Homo sapiens: one gene and its partner. The protein of the gene in region 1 purifies or fractionates together with the protein of each later gene. This does not show direct contact. Each region holds a gene or a part of one and is shown on either strand. Other genes may lie near its edges.

Region 1 (6,601 bases):
TAAGAATTCACTGTGTGCTGCCCATTGTACTACGTGCTGTGGAGAACAAGAAGATAACCCCAAACTCTTTTCTCAGAGAGTTTGTAGCCTAGTTTGGGATAGATAAGATCCACATATTTAGTCATATAAGACTACAGGAGAGTAGAATTGATGCACCAGATGGTGTCGAATGAAAGTGGTACTTTGTAACAGACTATAAGTGCTGTAAATTCTAAAGGACAGGTTACTTTTGCCTGGAGTGGTCAAGAAAGATTTTATTTAAAATAAGGATTTGACGGGCAGACTTAGCAGTCAAAAGGGAGAAAGCGGGTAAAACAAATGTAAGCCATCATAAGAGTGCATGTGGTTTGGAAGCATCAGGGAAAAGACTAGCCAACCTGAAGTAAAAGGTTCGTGCAAATTGGGCAATCAATAGCATTAAGTTGGAAACAGCTTGGGGACAGACACATAAGAGGGCCAGAGTGTGAATAATTTCATCTAATACTTTATAGCACTTGGACATTTACAGAGCACTTTTCTCAATTCCTAAAATACCTTGGTAAATCAAAAGCATTCTCCATTTTAAAAATGAGAATACTCTTGCCTATGGAGATGGCAACATAGCTATAATCCCACACAAAGAAAAAGACCAGTAACCTAAGTGCAGGTCTTTTGACTTCTAGTCCTGGCCATTACTCTAGTGATCCTCCAACTTTGATGAACATCAAAATCATGTTTGGAGCTTGTTTAACATCCCTGAATCCCACTCACATTCTGCTTCATTAGGCCTAGGATGGGAGTTGAGAATCTTCATTTTTATAGCTCCACAGTTACTTAATATACTTTAAAATTTGAGAAGCGTTGAGTTGAATGACAGCTGACTTCATGGCTGTCTGCGAAGTGGGGAAGCCTGAACACAGTCCTATAAACTAAAGGCCACTGCAGACTTTTAGCACAAGGAGATCCTTACAGGGAACATGTGCCATCAGCTCTTTGGAGTGAACAAGGAATTAGACCCCCATCATGCCAAAAAACTAGGATTTTTAGGTGGTCTTTCCATCCCTTCAGATTTAAGTATTCAAAGAAAGAGAGACAGACCTACATTCCAAGGGTCTTCTGAGTGCAAGGCCTTGTGTTGTTTGTTTATTTAGGGGAGGGCCTGGTGCTCTTCTCTGTTTTATGCTTTACCTTCTTTTATTTCTCAGATCTCATGTTAGCACTATGTTCTGAATTCCCTAATAATGGCTCTTGAGAACTGATTTACATTTTGTTGGTTTGTTTACTTCTTGAGCACATAAAAGGACCCCAAATTAGAGATACTATCCCTTGGGCTTCTGAAAAATGAATCAACCAAAACTGGTTGACTCTAACCTTGCCTTGCTGAGTAAAAATTCTGCTTTGGATGAGAACCTGTCTTGATTATTTTAGTGGACAACAGATAAGCCACATGGAAGTACACATGGCTCCTGATCTGTCTTTTTATTTACAGAAATCATTCTTAATCTCTACTGAGATGGCCTGTTATTTCCTTCCTTTTCTACCCTGCCACAGCAAACTCCACAGTTTCTGGGACTAACTTCCTACTACACCCCAACACAACTCCAGTCCTCTCTTCTCTTCACACTTCTAGCTGGTTAGTGGGTTTGAAGTGGTGAGACAGTGACAAAAGGGGAAGGGGAAAAATAAAAGAAGGGTAATCTGCATTCTTCCTTAGTAAGTCCCACTCCTAATTACCTTTCTACACAGCCCTGTGTCTTTGTCCCATCTTCTCTTCACTCCTGTAATATACTCCCCAGCCCCATTTTCTTAGTGCCCCTGTCTCTTGCCTCTCTAGCCATAAACCCTGTATAGAATTTCATCCCTGGGTTGGAACTAGAAGCGTCTCTGGTCCTATAGGAATATTATGTTTCTAGCTAAGTTGTAAATATGAACACATATTCCCATAGAAGTCATAATGGTATAAGTATTATAATTCAGGTATATTAGGTGTCAAATTGGCTTCTGGGATTGGAACTTACATGACTTTCTGTGTGGAAAAACCTTCTTGAGTTCACAAGAGAGAAAGGCAAATGAACAGTTGAAAAACAACTTACTCATAAGTTGAGGACTGCTTAGTTAGGCTTTTTTCATAACCCCAGCATTGGAGTTGCACACATGAGGCACTGAGGCAACTGGGATTGGAAACCTAGTTTTTTTCCTCCAGGAAACAAGGAACCCAGAGTGAGTCTGGGAGCTCTGTAGCTCTAAGTATGTGAGGCCTGTGCTCTACCTAAGTTTACCCTGCCTCCCATTTCTCACATAATGAGAATGCAAACTTGTAACCAAACCAAGGTTCAGCTGCTTGCGGCTCCAAAGCCAAAACTCGGGAGAGAAGAAAATTGGTGCGAGGAAAAGCAGATTTATTCGGAGAGCCAGCAAACTGAGACGATGGTAGACTACTGTCCTAAAGTACCATCTTAAGTCAGTACAAATGTTGGGCTCGGCTCTTTTTATGTTAAGGGCAAAGGGAAGAGGACAGAGTTGGGATGAAGAGGTGACCTATGACCACAGACATCTGGGCGCCAGCAAGAGTCCAAGGAGGTTGGGAACTTCTTTGTCATTGGTTGGGTCACAATGCTCCTGCAAATCTTCAACAAAACATAATTGTTATACATACTTCTTTAATCCCAGAGTTAGTTTTTAAAACTACATGATTGCTGTTTTTGCATATTATCTCTGCTCTAAAATTAGCCTACATGGAGGAATAGGTAAAGGGTCCTTAAACAAAAATGGAGTTAGTTATGGTAGTTCTTTTGCTGTTTCACTGTTAGAAACTCTTCTCAGTGGAGGGGACTTTACTTAGTGATGAGAACCTGTGTGAGAATGTTCTCCTTACCAAACATGCTATGCATACTCCTTATCTAATCTGATTTTATAGACTTGTTATCCAAACTGAAATTACTGTTCATAGTAACTTCAGAGCCTCTCTTTTAATCTGACTGCTCGCTGGAATGCAATCGTTGTTTTAAACTTGCCTTCTACTCCTCTGAGTGCCTTTACTTGGGGTCTTTCCAGTTCATTTTCTGCTTAATATGTTCTGTCATTGCGCACATTCCTCCATTTGCCTTTCTGCACACTACTTAATCTTTCTTATATACCTAATATTATAAAGGGACCATAAACAAAGACTCAGAACAATGGAATATGCCTATTATAGGAGGGTACAGTTCATACTTGTTTAAAAATAAATGTGGAGGCTGGGTGCAGTGGCTCACACTTATAATCCCAGCACTTTGGGAGGCCGAGGTGGGCGGATCACGAGGTCAGGAGGTTGAGACCATCTTGACAATGTGGTGAAACCCCATCTCCACTAAAAATACAAAAATTAACCAGGCGTGGTGGCACATGCCTGTAATCCCAGCTACTCGAGAGGCTGAGGCAGGAGAATCGCTTGAATCCGGGAGGTGGAGGTTGCAGTGAGCTGAGATGGCACCACTGCTCTCCCGCCTGGTGACAGAGCAAGACTCCATCTCAACAAAAATTAAAATAAAAATAAAAATACACGTGGGGGTTTTGTTCTGGTTATTTCTCATGCTTAAATACAGTTGTAGTACCAAAAAAAGGTGGAGTGACATGGAATTTCCAGGTAGGCATCAAAGAGGATTAAACTAGCTTTCCAGGATAAAGAGGAAATATAGTAGAATAAGGCTACTAATTGGAGCTAAATTGGCAATATAGGCAAATTGAAGGCCCTGAGGGGCAAATGGAGGATGTGACATGTTAGATATGGAATAGGAGTGCTACATTAGGGAATGCAGTGAAGAGAGAATGCTTTGTGATGAAGTCAGGAGTACATTTTGTGGATAACATATAGATGTGGTGTGACAGTGACAAGATCCTAGGAAACCAGAAACCTCTGAAGCATTTTATGTATGTGGATTTTGAAATAACAATAACGGGGTGGGATGGAAACGAAGAATATAAAAGCGAAGCAGGTCCAAGGTAGAAATAACGGTCATCAATTGTAGTAACAATGGCCAGATAGAAGTATCTGTTGTAAAACTTGAATGAATCATAAAGCTTGCAAATAATATTAAGAATAAGAATAAGATTGACTGGCTTGTCTTTTCTAATTGATTCAAGGTAAACAAGACATTAAGTGTTTAAGGCAAAAAGCATGGAGAGGTTGGGGAAGAGCCAAGTTTCTAAAGTAATGAAAAGTGAGGTGAGTTTCAACACGGGCTATGAATGAAAACGTAACCTGACAATCAAACTGATTCCAGAGAGTGCAGTGGGAAGTGACTGCAGAGGAAAAAAGAATGGGGCCCTCCTTCCAAAAATAAATTGTATTAAGAGGTTGCCAGAGTTTGAGGTACGAGATGAAGCTAATGAGGAAAGACAGTGGGATTGAGCAGGGCTCCAAATTGAGACATCTCAACTGTATAATGAGGTTGGTTGTAGAGACCTCTAAGATAGAAGAACTTAGACAAGTCTGCATTCCTGTATTCAGTACAGAAGTAGCCACTTTTGTTAATATACAGATTATTTGTAGAGTTGTTATAGTCAAAACAAAGCTGTTCTTATTGGCCATCTTTTGGAATTGAGAAAAGGATTTATTAATGACAATACCGCACACTTATTAGCTGCTTACTAAGGGCCAGACATTACTAAATGCTTTACTTACAACATTTCACTTTCAGCTGGGGAAACTGAAATAGATAATCTAAAGCTGCTCAAGGTCCCGAAGTTAGTATGTGGTCAGGCCAAGATTTGAACCCAAGCAGCCCAGTTCCAGAGTTCACACTTTTAACCTCTGTGATACACTTCCTCTCTTTATTTCAGTTGAACAAACCATGTGTTGCAGTGGTAATTCAGTGTCTTGAGTAATTATCTGTAAAAACTTTTTATCTCCAGTCATTATTCTGAAAAATGATTCAGAAAGTCCTGGAGTCCAAACACCTCAGGTAATAATATTATCACCCCCTCTGCATACCAAATCTTGGATGAGGTTTGGCCAGCATAAACAGCTCTACTTCTTGTTGCCTGCACAGTGAGGGTGTCACAGGAGACATTCCACTTTAAAAATGGGCTCTTTATATGAAAAGATCACCCTTCTTAGAATGATAAATCACTCTGCATTATTCTCACAGAATAAGGAATATTTGGCTGTCTAATTTAATACAGAAAGATTTAAAGATTTGTCCCCAAGTGTTGATAACCCATTATGGATCTATCTTTAATGCCAGTTTTCAAAAGTGATTTTATATTAGAAGATACTTCTTGGATTTAAAAATGCACACACACACATATATGTGATATATGATATTTTTCTTTGCTTAAGACTTACCAATTTTACAGTTCAAATGGTGACCCTCCTAACTCCACAAGGCCAGAATTTGAGCAAATGCTTGTTGTTCAACCTAGACATAATCATTCGATAGCCTTTAATTGAATCTCTTCCCAACTTTTATCCTTTAAACCGAAAAGTTATATACCACAGTCACTACAGCAGCTCATTTTATTGGAATTTCTTTGGATCCTCTCCCTCTCAAACGTTCTGTGTGCGTTTGGTAAGGAGTCCTCACACATTATTTTTTACTTGTATAGTATTTCTACATATATATATAAATGTGTAAAAAGTATGTATGAATATTTTTGTGTTGTAATTTGTATTTTACATATATATGACCTCATGTATATAATTTGATGTTGACAAAGCCAACTATGATAAGTGTTTTAAACTTTTCAGTTGATTAGCCCCCTAGCTTACATTGTAAGACCATCATTTAGAGCCAGCAGTTTTCCCTTGATTTCATCTCTTGAAGAGACAGTTGATTCTCTTCATACACGTTAAAAACACCATTTAGGTGTCAGAAACCCATCAGTCAAGGCTCCCAGAGCTTTCACCTATCATAGTTCAAGTTAATCTCTAGGGTATATGTCTGTTTGCTCCTGCCAGTCATTTTCCTAAGCCCAGTTGGCCTGCTCCTGGAAGTCCCAAGAAGGGCTCCATAGTGGAAGCCATTTGTTACTTTTGATTTATGATTACATCATCATTACTCCTCTTCAAGCTTAGTGGGCATATCTTAGTGTTTTGATCTAGTGCCTTAGTTCTGCCTACTTCAGTAACGAATTTAGGAGTAGATGTCTCCTCATTTCATCCCTGATAAAGATTGAGGCAGTTTAGGGACTCTGCAGCTTCCTCTGGCCAAATTCCCTACTTATTCCTGAGATAGGGTTTAAGAACCTGGATTCTAGAGACGGATTGCCATGGTTCGAATCTCAGTTTACTAGCTAAGTGACTTTGGGCAAGGGATTTAACCTCTCGTCCCTCAGTTTCCTCCTATGTAAAATGACAAGGATAATAGTACCAACCCAATGTAGATTAAATGAGTTTACGAAGTGTTAGAATAGTGCTTGGCACATTAGTGCTTTACAACTGCTATTTTGATTGTTGTTGTGGGCTCTCTCAAATGCATTGTCTCTAGATGCCAGTGACCCAGGTCAAAATTTACCTTTAACCAAGCTGCATGTTTCCCAGACTGCTGCACAGTCCTCCTAGCCCTGAGATAAAAGCTCCCACCCAGGTATACTTTTACTTTCCTGCTGGAGAACTGATGAGCAGTGGCCAGCAGGGGACACT
Region 2 (7,000 bases), on another chromosome or scaffold:
CTCTGGTTGGACATACTACTGTCAGTGATGGTCACACCCATTTATATGTAAAACGAAGGCAGATTTCTTTGCTTGGTCATCTGTTATATCATTTAGTCTGCTTTCTTCCTGTAATTTATATCTTACATGTCTGTAATCTGTGGGTAATAGTCAGCCTGTCCACAGTAAAGGTTTTTCATGGTTGTCTTAGATTGGGTTCCCTAGAAGCAGAACCTGAGATGGGGATTTAGGTGCATGTTATGTATTGAGGCAGTTGTCTTCCCTGTAGGGAAGTGAGGGAAGTGGGATGGAAAAGGGAAGGAGCCAAGGTGACATCTAGCCTTGGCCTGGTCCACAGTGGGAGGGCTCTCCAGGCTGGCCTTTTGGATAGAATCGGTCAGTTGGTGGCTGTGATCTGTCCTCTGGATGCAGGTCATGGTGCATAACTGGGTCAGTTAGGTCTTATCAGCCAAGGACAATTTTCTGGAGAGGGGAGGGCAGTTGTGAGCTGTCAGCAGGCAACCCTCACAGCAGCACCAGCAAAAGGGAACTGGGTCAGCCACCAACGGGGTCTGCACAGCTAAACTCCCATGCCTGGCTCTTTCTGGTTGGCTGAATAAGCAGATGAATGAACACCAGGCAGGGCCTGTACCTAGGAGTGTCCCCAGTTCCCAGGTTCTTCATGTCCAAATCCTTCTACGCCAAGCACTGTGGATAGAGCCTTGATCACAACAAAGGTCTTCAAGGAGTTTGTAGTATAGTATTGGAAAATTCTAGTGAATACTGCTCATTGCTCCTTCAGCATCCATTCTCCCAGCTTCCCAATAGATCCTCTTCTTCTTTCTTCTCCTCTTCCCCTCCTCGCCTTCTTCTCCTCTTATCCTCTTCTCCTCATCTTCTCTTTCTTTTTCTTCTTTTCAATAATATACTCTTCTCTCAGGCAGCCCATGTGCCTCAGGGACACAAGCCCCTCCCAGCTCCAAGGGAGGGCCTGATTGGTGCAGGGGCATCTCAACTCTCCTGCTACTGGTTGGTTCAGGAGCCAGACCTAATCCAATCAGTGCAGGCGGGAATTTCTGCCCTGATCCTTGTTTAGGGAGGGGCATGTGGCTTAAGGGGTGCAATGAGGGAGGATTTCAAGACTGTTTGTTGGAATGTTGGGGTGCTGGCCTGTCTCTTTCCTGGGATGTCCTGGGCAGGAAGGCACGGCAGGCAGGGACTAACAGCAACTTTGCCCCGTGAGGGAAGTGACTCTAAGACAAAGCCATAGCACAAAGAGGATGCATCCAAGGGCTCTTAAGAGAAACCGGGGCTGGGTCCATGGAAAAAGCTGAACCCAGAGCCCACCTTGCCTCTGGACCCCCAGTGACGTTGAGTTACATGGTCACTTCCTTGAAGCCAAAAACATCCTCACAAATACGGGCAGATACATATTTTTTAAAACGCCAGGACTACTAAGTAGGCAGGAGTTCTGTGCTCTGCTCTCATGCCTTCGTAGCTGTGTGACATTCCAGAAAGCACTTCCCTCTCTGAACCTGGGTGCTCTCTAAGCACCTTCTACCCCCAAAAACCACTTCTTGGTAAAACTTAATAACAGCTGGTGATGAACAAGGGCTCTATGGGCTGCTGAAAACAGATTGTAGAAGAGAAATTAGTAAAATTCCCAAGAATGCTTCAGATAAACAAAAGAAAATAGGAAGGAGTCCATTTCAGGGTTTAGGGGGCTGCACTGTTTACAAAGGCTGCCTGGATTAAAAATAGAAGCTTCTGCTATTCAGAGTGGGCGCAAGTTCCCAGTGCCTAGGAGTGGAGAAGTTAAGACATGTCCCTTGAGCTGAGAAAACATTCTCAGCAGCGGTGAAACCAGCAGCCTGGCAGGAGCCTTGGAGGAGGCCGGGCAGGGCAGGGCTGGAGCAGGGAAGGAACCCACAGAAAGCACCATCCTGGGAACACTCTGTGGCACGCACAGCTTTACAGTGATGTTCAGTCACTGATCCCTAAACATTGTCAAGTTTCAGAAACAAGAACGGATTATGGAATTCCAGGTCTGGATAGCGGTCCTCCCCAACTTGTGTGTTTGTTAGGTGTTTTGATGCAAGTCTCTTCACCCTTCAGGCTTTCAGTATCTTCATCTATTAAATGAGGGGGAGGTGGTGATAATTTGGTTTCTTCCCCCATGAGATACTGCTGATCAGGTGGCACTGCCACCACCTCCCCGCCCCCCCACCCCCGCCCCAAGGGACACAGCCCACACCCTGGCCTGGTGGGGTCTCAGCACCCTCCCACCTCAGCATGCCTGTGTCACAGCAGTCTCCACCGGGCCTCCTGCCCTGGCTCCCTGAGTGCGAACATCTGGCCTTTCTCCCCCAAACAGCCAACACCAGCCCCATTCCGGGCCTTTCCATCTGTCATCACGGGCTTTAAACTGACCCAAATTTGTCAGTTGGGTTAGATGCCTGAGTAGGCTAATTTTTTAATTCCATCAATTAAAATAGCTGAGCAACTGGTTATTTCCCAATCAATTGATAGGTTGCTCTCCTGAGTTGAGCAATTGTTTGTTGGCTTTTAGTTTGGAATGTGTGTGTGTGTGTGTGTGTGTGTGTGTATCTGTGTGTGTTTGGCTGTGACTCAAAATAAATAAAGAGATAAAACTAAAACAAAACCAAGAAAAAAAAAAGAACAAGATAGAAACCGAACCCCATGGGGTACACATGGGACACATGAAGCTATAGTCAGTATTTCAATTCTCTGATCATCCTGCTCCCATGTTCCCTATTAATTTGGAAAAATAATTTCCTCCTCTTATGACTAGATAAAATAGTGCCTCACTGACCCGGAAGTCATTCATCCTAAAGACAGATCCAAACCAGATGGGAAGCGTCCGCACAGGTAGCATAGGCGGCTTAAGTCTACACGAGAAGGGGTTTCCCTGTGGGAGGGCACTGCTTCCACCTCCCACACCGTCCCGATCAGCCAACTGAAGCAACAGTGAGCTGTGACAGCAGACTCAACAATAATAATATTTCTAATTTTACAAAGCGCTTCCCCCGTTATCACCACAGTTTGAAGAAATGATACCTAAACAGGGATAACACACACAGGCTACAGAAGGTCTACTCAGTGCACAGTGGTTTGGAACCACAGTTTTCTTTAGAGAGAACTCCCCCTGCCCCCAGGCAGGTCACTCCTCTCCTGATAGTTGACCACCCTACCTCTCTTCCCTGGGATGAAACTGACTGGCTAGAAAGAGTTGATGTAATATCCTTCCTCAAGCCAATGAGACCAAAAAGTTTAGAATGCTTTGGACAAGTTCCCATGTCTTGAGAACCAACAGAGCGAGCTTCAGGCAACCAGTGTGTTGCCTCCTCATCGGGGAGATGCTTCCTACACTTGGCTGCATGCACCAGACACCCCTTCCTGCCCCAGAAACCCCTTCCTGCCCCAGGAACCCCAGGCCCTCTGAGATGCCACCTTTCCTCAGAACCTTTTCTGAGCGCCTCTTGGAATGTGCAGCACTTGGGTAAACCCGGTGCCCTTCTTTGGGCTGAGAAATCTGAGGAATCCTTGCTAAAGGTGTGCCTTGGCCTCCCAACAGAAGACCCTCACAAGAGCCCTGCACTTGAAGAGCCACTTCAGGCCTGCTCTGTGGCTCACCTGTTTTAAAGGACTGATATTGCTTTAAGAAGAAATCACTCTATATACATCAGAAATTAAATTATTATTTTTAAAAGCACATTTAGAACTAAGTGGTGGTAAGACATATCTTCTCTCCCCTGTTAGAAGTAAGAGAAGCCCCATAAACAAACTCTGATGACCACAGCAATATACTTTCTCCTCCTTTCTGGAAAACAAAGAGTGGAGAACATGTCCCCATTCCACTTGTTAATTTGCCCTGTAGATTTCTGCCTTCATTCCTTAAGAAATATGTTTGAGTCCTCACTCTGTGTCAGGCACTGGGGCACTAGAGCAATGCCCAGGAAATGGTCCATATTGATGCTGCAGACTGACTCTCAGCCCAACAAGCCCCACAGCCTTCTCCAAACCCTCAAGAACCTTCCAGCTGTTTGCCTGACCTGGTCCTCCTCCCCTTCCGTGACTGCATTCTAGGAGGAGGGGTATGTGGGTTGGAAAGGCTGAGAGATCATTGACTTCAGGACTATCTGTGCCATAAAGAGGGAAATGAGGCCCAGAGTGGACAAAGGAAGAGATTGTGGTTGCAGTGTGCATCAGTGGTGAAGGCAATTCTGCAGAAATGCATTGAACAGGCTGCTTCGCCTCACTTTCTCCATGAACCAGTGAGTTGATGGATCCAGCCTCTATCCTCAGAGAGAGATAAAGATTCACAAACAGCTCACACACAAGGATGACTGTGGCCAGCATCATGCAGCAGGGGTGGACCCAAATTGGAGGCACCACTTATGTCCCAAGACTTCTCCCATCCCCACATTCATGAAGCTTCTCTCTCTAGAAAAGCACTGGGCAGTAGACATCCATAACACTCTGCCAAAGATGTTCAACAAATTCTTCAAGAGGGGTTTACCTGGATTTTGGAGATCCTCTAGAATTTTCCTTTCATACACCCACCTGTGGACAGTGCTACATCCTCCCTCGATCTGAAGCAAGCTTCGTGTGGAATAGACAAGAAGCACCGGATCTTTTGGAAGGGAAGGTCTCATACTCACAGTACATTCAGAAGTCCACTGAGCCAGCCAAATGCATCTGCCTTTCTTGCTTTATTATTTATACTTCCATGGCCTCTTGGAAGAGTAAGGCCAATACAATGAGCTGGCGTGTATGGGCAGGTGATGGAGGCTTTGGAAGCAATGGCCACACCACCTCCCTGGGAGCTCTCCCTGTGGAGGCAGCGGCATGATATCGTACCGGCCACACCCACTGGGCTGTGGCTTCCCTAATGAAGTCCACTAGACACCTTTTGCAACGACTCTATTTCCCAGTTGCTCTCTGGGTATGGAAGCCAGAATAGTCTACAAGTAGATGAGCCTAGAGTCCTAATACTGAATATTCAACCCAAGTATCATCATTGCTGCCCATGGGAACAGGTTGATAACTGGGCTTCTTGGGGTCATTCCCATGTATCCCTCACCATTTTCTTTTGCTATTTTTTCATGTGTTCCAAATTAGCTTAGCTCACATGGAGTCCTTTGGGGAAAAAGTTCGAGGACAGACAAATAGACAACTAAATGCGTAGATTCCGTTAGGAAGAACAGGAATTAAAAATTCACCTCAAAGTTCATGATCATGGAAATTACAAATTGTTTTCCTATTGCACATTTGTTGTGCTGGAGTGGTGAGACTATGGTTGGGTTCTCTTGTGCTGGGGTGATGAGACTATGGCTGAACTCTGTTGTCTCTGCCTCCCCCTTACTTTTCTATATTTTCCAAATTGTCTTTAAAAAACAGATATTACTTTAGGATTAATTTTTCAAAGGCTTAAAATAAAATAAAATAAAATTCTTATCTTCAGTTTTACCACTTGGAGAGAGAAGCATTGAAGATGTCTGGGAACATTCCAAACCCACTGATGCTGGGATGGAAGAGCAATAAGCTCAACATGCCTATCTTCAATTCTGCTTAATCTAATGAGCTCCAGTGAGCAGAAAAAACATTCACATATTTCTTCCCCATTGAGTGGTGTTTCACAGTAGGTCGTATCTGATCGAAACACCTCGGAGGCCTCGGAAGAGCCATGGGTGTTGTTTTCCCTTCCTTTGGGTTGCTGCTTTTAGCAAAGACATGACTCTCATTCCCAGAGCTATTCAGAGCAGGTGACCCAGACAAACCTTCTTGGAAAGAGGAGACACTAGTTCATTCCCAGGCCTGGTTCAGCCACAGACTCTATGCACTCAGGGCCTAGATGAACAAGGACATGGGGATATGGGTTCCAGAGCTGCCCAGATCAGAAACCACCCCTGAAGATGCCCCTGAGCCACCACCTTCCCTCGCCCAGGCAGCAAGGCCTGCCTGCTGGGATGCATGGGTCAAAGACACCATGTGAACGGCGAGATGAGAGACTTCACACTGGCCGGCTCTGGTCACCAAGGGGTTGCAGAGGAGACAGAAGGACAGGCTGAGACCAAGGAGTACAGGTGGTCCTATTGTGACTGTAGAGGCTATAGTGGTGGAAGATCAGAGCCAGTGAGGTGGACACTGACCCAGAATCCAGGTCTGTACATCTGGTTTGGGAGGGAAAACCTGCCCTCTAATGACAGGGTGAGGCCTGTGTGAGTCTGAGGGCCATGCCTCCCTGCCTGCCCCAGACACTCTCTGCTCCAGGGTAAATTTCCACGGGAGACATGCAGGAAGAGGCCAGGGTAGGGATGCCCACTGAGCGACACGGGCAGCACTGGGGATGCCTGAGTTCAGACAGTGCCAGAGGCCAGTAGGCCATGGGCAGAGGGTAGCCACAGGTGGGCTGCCGGCCAGCCAGGCGCTACACCTGGGTTGGGAGTTGCCTGTCCTGCCTGGGGAAAAGAGCCCCGGAGGAGGTGCACGTCTGTGGAGAGCAGTGAAGGATATAGGCATGGGAGGGAGCAGCCCCCTTCACGTGCCCATTAAGGGACCTCAGCCTAGACTTGAGGCTGCCCCGACTGCCTGTAGTTAAGATTCAGGTCCCATGGATTTGTGCCTGGTGTTCATCAGGGGCTAGAAGGATGAAGGAGATTGTCCAGCCTGGGAAGATTATTGTTATAAGTTAATGGGCCTAAGGCACTGGTCGGAGGCTGAGGGGTGGCCTGAATATTTTTTACATTATTGCCATGTGTAGGGGTGAGAGGGGAGCTAGGAATTTCTGGTCCTCATCCTCACTCTTTGGATCTCCCAGATGGAAGAAACATGTTAGTGACCATGCCACACCCTAACTCCAAGAGCTCTGGTCTGATGGGAACACAGAACACAGAGATACAAGTCACACTAGGTAAGGGCCAAGGTAGAGGTAACTCTGGGAGGTGAGAACACACAAGAGGCACCTGATCCTAGCTGGGGTGCTCTGGACTGTGTCATA

The links. The genes of interacting proteins can lie anywhere in the genome.
Region 2: the proteins of ZSCAN12 (region 1) and SERPINA12 purify together in Homo sapiens (affinity purification with mass spectrometry; 2 studies listed by BioGRID and IntAct, with this or other methods). This does not show direct contact.

The regions. Positions count from the first base shown.
Region 1 is NC_000006.12:28,383,737-28,390,337, reverse strand, and holds the end of ZSCAN12 (zinc finger and SCAN domain-containing protein 12), read left to right. Parts: 3' UTR 1-4,101; coding exon of another isoform or gene 4,102-4,105; 3' UTR 4,106-5,600; downstream 5,601-6,601. UniProt on the Homo sapiens protein: May be involved in transcriptional regulation.
Region 2 is NC_000014.9:94,499,470-94,506,469, forward strand, and holds part of SERPINA12 (serpin A12 precursor), read right to left. Parts: intron 4,754-7,000; exon of another isoform or gene 4,564-4,753; intron 1-4,563. UniProt on the Homo sapiens protein: Adipokine that modulates insulin action by specifically inhibiting its target protease KLK7 in white adipose tissues.